Homo sapiens: one gene and its partner. The protein of the gene in region 1 purifies or fractionates together with the protein of each later gene. This does not show direct contact. Each region holds a gene or a part of one and is shown on either strand. Other genes may lie near its edges.

Region 1 (3,752 bases):
CAGTCATGAGAAGCATGTGTGCCCTGTGTATCCCAGGCCCTGGCTCCATGGGAGGCAAAAGGGTAGGTCTGTGGTTCTGGGGTGTGTACATAATCACAGCTGGTCTGGTCTTTGTAGCAGTCCATAATGAGCAACTTTTATTGGCATTAGGGTGTCAGTCCTGTAAGGATCATCACTTAAGTGTGTCTCAGTGGAGAAAAGATCAAGAATCATGTCAAGAAGACCATGGGGTTTTATTCCACTTGAGCAAGAGCAAATCAGAGCCCCATCAAGCAGGAATGGTGGCCTTTCCCAGGTTCCATCCTTAACTAAACTGACTGTTCCCCCTTCTGATTTCTCCACGGTCTTCTGTCTCTTGCTCTGCCAAACTTGTTTTCTTATCTCTGTAGAGATGAGTGGCTTGTTTGATGTTCTTTCCATGGCAAAAATTTATTCAATGCAAAGTTCACTTCAGACACTTGGTTGAGACTTGAAGTTTAGACCAATCCTGAGATGCGTGGTGATCCTGAGAGAGAGCAGACTGCCTGCCAGGTAAATGGTCCATATTATTTCCTTGGCAGAGGCCCTGACAGGGGCTGGGGTCCGTGTTACCTCAGCAGTCTTTCTGCTTGGCCTACTCTTGCTGCTCTGTAGGAAGGCCCTATCTGGCCATTTCTGTGAAACTTGCCCCTTCTCAAGCACTCCGTAACTGTTGGTGTTGGCCCATCAGGCAATAAGGGGATGCCCGAGGTCTGTGCTTCCAAGGATAATAGAAACACCCATGTGTGTGGTAAGATAAAGGTAAGGACACTAAAGAACAGAGTGTGAGAGGTGAGTTCTAAATAACAACAGATGAAGAAAGGATTGGATCCACCAGCTTCTCTGCCAGTTGTGATTTTGATACAAGTTGTGTTGCTTTGAGCTCCTAGCAGAGAGCTAACACTACCTGCTGTGTATTTTGGTCCTCTGTCCTATACTCCTCCAAGACATTTGCAAAGCACCACTTAGATGGGGGACTGGGCCATAGTCCATCCCTAAGAAACTGAGAGCTCCTGAATCCCGGATCTCTGTGGCAAGATTCAGGGATGACTGGGTTTCCTTACAGAAGAGGAGCTCAGCTGAGCAAAGCCTGGAGGACATATTCCATAGGCCACAGGCCCTTAGGGGCAGGCCCAGAGCCATCCTGAGGGAGCAATACCATCTGGATTGGTGATCTTGCCATCAAAAGGCTTCCTGAGCAGGTTCTTGGTGCCCCTTGGCACTGGCCCTTTTCCTCTGAGTTGGGACTCTGTGAAGGGCATGGCTCCAATAAGCTGAGGTATCTGGTGTATCGGCAGCAGCTAGGAGTGTGCAGTGACAGCTTCAGATGAGGTTGTTCCTGAGACGCTGTTCCTGCTCCAGGGAGAGTTCTGCATTGGCTGGGTATGAATTCCCTGTGGGCCAAAGGAAAACAGGTAAGTAGCCAACCTTTCCAGTCTCATCCCTTCCCTGACAACTTACATAGATCCACTCTGCCCAGCTCATCCTTTATATCAAGTCATGGCATGGGCACAGACACCAATCATTTTATAGAAATAGGCCTGGGACAGGTGTGTGGTTTCAGGAACATCAGGAAGAACAGGCTATTGATTGGAAAGAGTTGTGCTAGTTATTCTCCTTTGCCCCCCTCCCCAGGTTCATTCTCTGCCCTTTTTTCCCTCTGTGCCCTAGGAAGCTGATGCCTAGCGATTACATCACTCTGGCTCCTTTGTCCTCTTTTTTTGTTTGTTTGAGTTGGGTCAATGGAAAGCAACAGCAGAAGGTCAGAGGGTGGAAGGAGAGAGGCCGGATATTCCTTCCCCTACTTTGGCCCTGTGGTTCTGGCAGTGATGGTCTGTGACTCCTGTTCCAGCTAGGTTCACCCTCCTTCACAACTCTGGCTTGCACCTGGCTGCAAAGCAGCCCTTGCCCCTCTTCAAGCCTAAAGCAGATAACGGTTTTCTACTTTCTTTATGCTTGATGTCTCAACACTCCTTGTTTTCTTATAAATAGTCCTTTAATTAAATAAACTCAGACTCTCACCCGAGTGTGCCTTCTGTTTTCCGCACACTTCTGTTTAGCCCTGTTGGATCCTAAACACTGGCAAGAGGACCTGCAGGACTGCATTATTTTTCTTGCCCTTGTCACTGCCTGGGAACCCTTGCAGCCTGATTCTAGCATTATGGAGGATCTGCTGTCTCCGTGTGCGTAGCCTTGGATTCCAGTTCCTGGTTCCTCTCAATATCCCTGTTTCATTTAAGTGGCAGCACAATCTACTCAGCCACACAAATTCGAAACCTTAGACTGTTCTTCCTCTTCTCATTTTCGTCCATCTGTTGCCACAGTTATTTTTTGAAAACCTAAATGATCTTTTGCCTCCTTGACTGAAATTTGTCAATAGTTCCCAGAAGCCCACGGGATAAAATCCATTATCTTAGAACTATCACAACCCTCCCTGCAAAAAGCTCTAGTACTTAGTAAGTTTGAAGTATACAGCCCCATTTTACAAAACAGAAAACTCAGGTCGTGATTTCCTCACTGTCCTCCAGCTAGAAAGTGGTGGGACTGGATTCGGGTGACGCCTTCCAAAGCCCAGTCCTGTGCTCTTTCTCTACTCCTCCCATGTTTGACTTTGGCTCCTCCTTCAAACCTCAGATCAAATACTACTTCTGTGAAGCTTGTGCTAGCCCCCAACAGGTTGCTTTCTGTCTGTGCTTGCTCAGCATTCAGTCCACACATTAGTAGTATTGGGGCTATTTGCATGTGTGCATACCCTATCTGACACTTACATTCCCAGTTTCTGGGGCACAGCGTTCAACACAATAGTGAGCCTTAGTAAATGTTTGTTGACTAAATGAACAACTCTGCCCCATCCCACCGCACATATGCAAGTATGAGTGAATGCATATCCCATAGCAAATATGGGCATTTTTAACCCTTGAAGATAGAGGGAGTCTTTACTGACAGAACAGCCCCTCTTCTCTGCCCCCACTGGATCATGATGCTTCCTTTGACTGATGCTACCAATCCTGTAAGTGGCTCTGTTTTCCATGGTCCCCTTCTTGCAAGCAGTGATCACAGCTGGAGACAGCAACACAGAGCAAGAGGACTACTTTTGCCTGTGAGGACCCTAACCCTAACTTCTATATGAAAGAGAAAGGAAAAATAATGGACTTGAAAATCCTGACATGGCTTGAGGTGACAGGAAAGATTCTAGAACAGATTGGAAACTGAGTTTACAATCAAACAGCCTTAAGTGCAAACAGGGATGTAGAAGATGTAGTTATTGGGTGAAGCCGATGGTCTGACCAGTTCTAGAAGTCTGCCTTGTAAGATGTCAAAGGAAATGCATCTCTGTTCCATCCATAGCCTTTTGCACACCACACACATACAAGTCACACGCTGGAGTGTGGGAGCAGAGGGTACATTTACAGTGTTCCAGCTCCCTGAGCCTATAGATGGCTGATTCCACAGTGGCTCGGAGTTACCTGTGTGGCAGTTGTGCAGCCAGACCCGGTGCCCATCATACTTGCAGCGGCACTGCAGCATATTGTTGGAGAAATCTGACTCTGCCACTTCATAGTGGGGGTTCACAATCACCTAGAGTGAAAGAGGGGACAACTGAAAATGGGTGATTTGGTTTCTGAATGAGTTGACTGTGGCTGTGATAATCCTTACATGTGTTTCTATTTGCTTCATTAATTCTTAACAATTACCCAGGAGGTAGGTACTGATGTTCCCATTTTACAGATAGG
Region 2 (3,652 bases), on another chromosome or scaffold:
CTTGTTGCCCAGGCTGGAGTGCAATGGTGCAATCTCGGCTCACAGCAACCTCCATCTCCCAGGTTCAAGCGATTCTCCTGTCTCAGCCTCCCAGGTAGCTGGGATTACAGGCGCCCACCACAATGCCCAGCTAATTTTTTGTATTTTTAGTAGAGATGGGGTTTCACCATGTTGGCCAGGCTGGTCTTGAACTCCTGGCCTCAGGTGACCCACCCTCCTCGGCCTTACAAAATGCTGGGATTACGGGCGTGAGCCACTGCGCCTGGCCACAAATGTTTTTTATATTGATATTTTACAGCCCAAGGTTTTTAATAATTTACATACCTTTAGGCCAAGCATGTTCTCTCCAGTTTGATACAGAATCATCACCCCCCCATTATGACAACATTTATCTGCTCGGCCCCTGATGACATTTTCCTCAGGTCTCCTGCTGGTTGTTCCTGAGAGTTTTATCACCTATAGATTGTAAACAACCTAAGTTGGCTATAAATATTGTTGCTAGGCTGATGACATCAGGGAGGGCTGAAGACAGAGGGAATGGCAGTAAGGTATGAATGAGGAGGAATGAGTTCATGTTAACCCAAGGATAAAGAAGATCTTCGCTGTTGCCCAATAAAGAGAATCAGGGTTCAGTTGCAGAGGGCCCATATTCTTTCTTGCTCTTAGGGATGAATAAGAGGGAACCCCCACACGGAGACACTGCTGGAGAGAGTCGTACTGGGGAGGCAGCTGGAGCAGCAAGATGCTGTCGAGACCGAAGCCAGGGGAGTCCGAGGTGGACCTGCTGCACTTCCAGAGTCAGTTTCTCGCAGCTGGTGCAGCCCCAGCAGTGCAGTTGGTGAAGAAAGGAAATAGGGGCGGTGGTGATGCCAACTCAGACCGGCCTCCGCTCCAGGACCATCGGGATGTGGTGATGTTGGACAGTGAGTTCCCATGGATGTGAGGCTGAGAAGTAGAGAGGGTACAGCCTCGGGCCCCTCCCTCTTCCTGTTGTGGTTGGATTCAGACACATCATTATTATTTCAGACACTGCATAGCCTGTGTTTCTGCAGCCCCATTTTACAGAGGAAGAAAATGAGGCTCAAAGAGGTTAAATATCTTACCCAAGATGACACAGCTTGAGCCAGGGCCCCATGGCAGCTGTCTTTCTTCCCTAGCCTGCAGTGTCTTCCTAGGAAGGTGTGCATATACTCACGTTTGGGATCTTTTCTTTCTCAGATCTCCCAGATTTGCCCCCAGCTTTGGTCCCTTCTCCTCCAAAGAGAGCCAGGCCCAGCCCTGGCCACTGCCTGCCTGAGGATGAGGACCCAGAAGAGAGGCTGAGGAGGCATGATCAGCACATCACTGCTGTCTTGACTAAGATTATTGTGCGTCTCACTCTGGCTGAGTAGGATAAGATGTTCTAGGGCAACAGGGATATTGGATGCTCGGGGTGGGTGAGGCTTATCAGTGGAGGGTGCTTCAGAAAGGTAGACTTTTACCCCTGAGGTCAGGTTGGGGGCTGGGTTAGAATCACTGCCCTGAAGGGAGGAGGGTCCGTAACCCCCCAGAGTGAGGTTCTCATCGTTCAGAACTGGGCTAATAGGATCGGGTCCAGCCTGGGGAAGTTTCTCCATTGTGCTTCACAACTTTGTGCTTTGTTGCTACAGGAACGAGATACAAGTTCAGTGGCCGTGAATCTGCCTGTGCCCAGTGGTGTTGCTTTCCCTGCTGTGTTCCTTCGCTCGCGGGACACACAGGTAGGCAAGGGTAAGCTTAGGTGGTGCTCAGGAGACAGACAGGTGAGTCTCATAGTGCATCTTCTCCAGGCAGGTAGTTTTAATGATGATAAGCAATTTAATTTACAAAGCAGGATCATACTAAGCACTTCATACCCATTACTTCTTTTAATCTTCATAACAAACATATAAGGCAGGTATCATGATGATACCTTGGGGATGAGGAGTCCTTATTCCCATTTTTCATATGAGGAAACTGAGACCCCAAAGAGATAAATAACTTGTCCAACACCACACATCTAATAGGTAGAAGAGCCAGAACTTCAACCCAAGTCTGTCAGAGTCTAAGACCTTTACTCTTATAGACCTCTCCTTTTTCTGAGAACTAGGGTTGTGATCCCTGGAAATTGAGCAAATCCCCTTTTATCTCTTTGTTCCAGAGGCCTTGATATAAAGAGGTTGAGAGGAAAGTGGGATGATGAGCATCAGTAACCTGGGTTTTCTTTTTGCCCCACAGGGGAAATCAGCAACATCTGGTAAGAGAAGCATCTTTGCCCAGGAAATTGCGGCAAGGAGGATAGCTGAAGCCAAGGGCCCATCAGTTGGGGAAGTTGTGCCCAACGTGGGCCCACCAGAGGGTGAGCCGGGGTTGAAGAGGATTGGGCTTGGCCTTTTTAAAAGACACAATCATAGGGTCATTTTTGAAGATATGTCTTCCTGCCTCAAATGAGAGGTGCATTTGAGCCATCTCAAGTAGTCTGAGAATACTAGGTATGGGAGGCTTGGGTCCATATCTGGGTCTCAGGTGCTGGGAGTGGGGCAGGCCATTATGCAGTCCTAAGAGAAAGGGAATAGGGCAGAAGTGTCTGGCAGAGACTGTAAAATAAATGTGTTGGCCAAGATCCCTTTAATGATGCAAATTATTAGCTTAACAGCTGGGAGCAGGCCCCTGGCTATAGATGCCTGCCTAGATATCTAAGAGGAGTCAGAAATTAGGATGTTTCTGAGGAAAACCTTTTCATATAAGTACTAGGGAAGCAGTGAGTGGAGAAGCCACCTGGAGTCCCTGTGCCAGACCCAGTGGGGTCTCCACTCTGAGGAAAGTTTGGGTCTATACCTGTCTCCAGGGCTAATAGCCTTATAGAAGAAGGCCAAAAAGCCCAGTTAGAGCCCTGGAGGACAGAGCAATGAATGTGATCATACCTTTCTTCCAGGTGCCGTGACCTGTGAGACACCCACTCCTAGGAACCAGGGCTGCCAGCTTCCTGGGAGCAGCCACAGCTTTCAGGGACCCAATCTGGTCACAGGGAAGGGGCTCAGGGATCAAGAAGCTGAGCAGGAAGCCCAGACTATCCATGAAGAGAACATAGCAAGACTGCAGGCCATGGCTCCTGAGGAGATCCTGCAGGAACAGCAGCGGTTGCTGGCCCAGCTTGGTATGGGTGCCTGGCTTTCCTGCTGAGACCAGGCTAGGAGAGGAATACCACTTATTGAGCTAGGCTTACTGTGAGTTCCGGGCACTGTGCTGAGTACTTTAATGCTTTTTTTTTTTTTTTTTTTTTTTTTGAGATGGTCTTGCTCTGTCACCCAGGCTGGAATGCAGTGGCACGATCTCGGCTCACTGCAACCTCCACCTTCACGGCTCAAGCAATCCTCCCACTTCAGCCTCCTGTGTAGCTGGGATTATAGGCACACACCACCACACTCAGCTAATTTTTTTTTTTTTTTGGGGGGACAGAGTTTCACTCTTGTTGCCTAGGCTGGAATGCAATAGCACAATCTCGGCTCACCACAACCTCCGCCTCCCGGGTTCAAGAGATTCTCCTACCTCAGTCTCTCGAGTAGCTGGAATTACACGCATCTGCCACCACGCCCAGCTAATTTTTTTATTTTTAGTAGAGGTAGGGTTTCTCCATGTTGGTCAGGCTGGTCTC

Evidence for each region. Proteins that work in one complex are often made in the same cells at the same time.
Region 2: the proteins of LOXL4 (region 1) and RPAP1 purify together in Homo sapiens (affinity purification with mass spectrometry; one large-scale study listed by BioGRID and IntAct). This does not show direct contact.

The regions. Positions count from the first base shown.
Region 1 is NC_000010.11:98,247,580-98,251,331, forward strand, and holds the end of LOXL4 (lysyl oxidase homolog 4 precursor), read right to left. Parts: intron 3,598-3,752; coding exon 3,486-3,597; intron 1,413-3,485; coding exon 1,342-1,412; 3' UTR 111-1,341; downstream 1-110. UniProt on the Homo sapiens protein: Catalyzes the oxidative deamination of lysine and hydroxylysine residues in collagen and elastin, resulting in the formation of covalent cross-linkages, and the stabilization of collagen and elastin fibers.
Region 2 is NC_000015.10:41,534,216-41,537,867, reverse strand, and holds part of RPAP1 (RNA polymerase II-associated protein 1), read left to right. Parts: intron 1-666; 5' UTR 667-742; coding exon 743-923; intron 924-1,218; coding exon 1,219-1,367; intron 1,368-1,649; coding exon 1,650-1,739; intron 1,740-2,235; coding exon 2,236-2,356; intron 2,357-2,932; coding exon 2,933-3,154; intron 3,155-3,652. UniProt on the Homo sapiens protein: Forms an interface between the RNA polymerase II enzyme and chaperone/scaffolding protein, suggesting that it is required to connect RNA polymerase II to regulators of protein complex formation.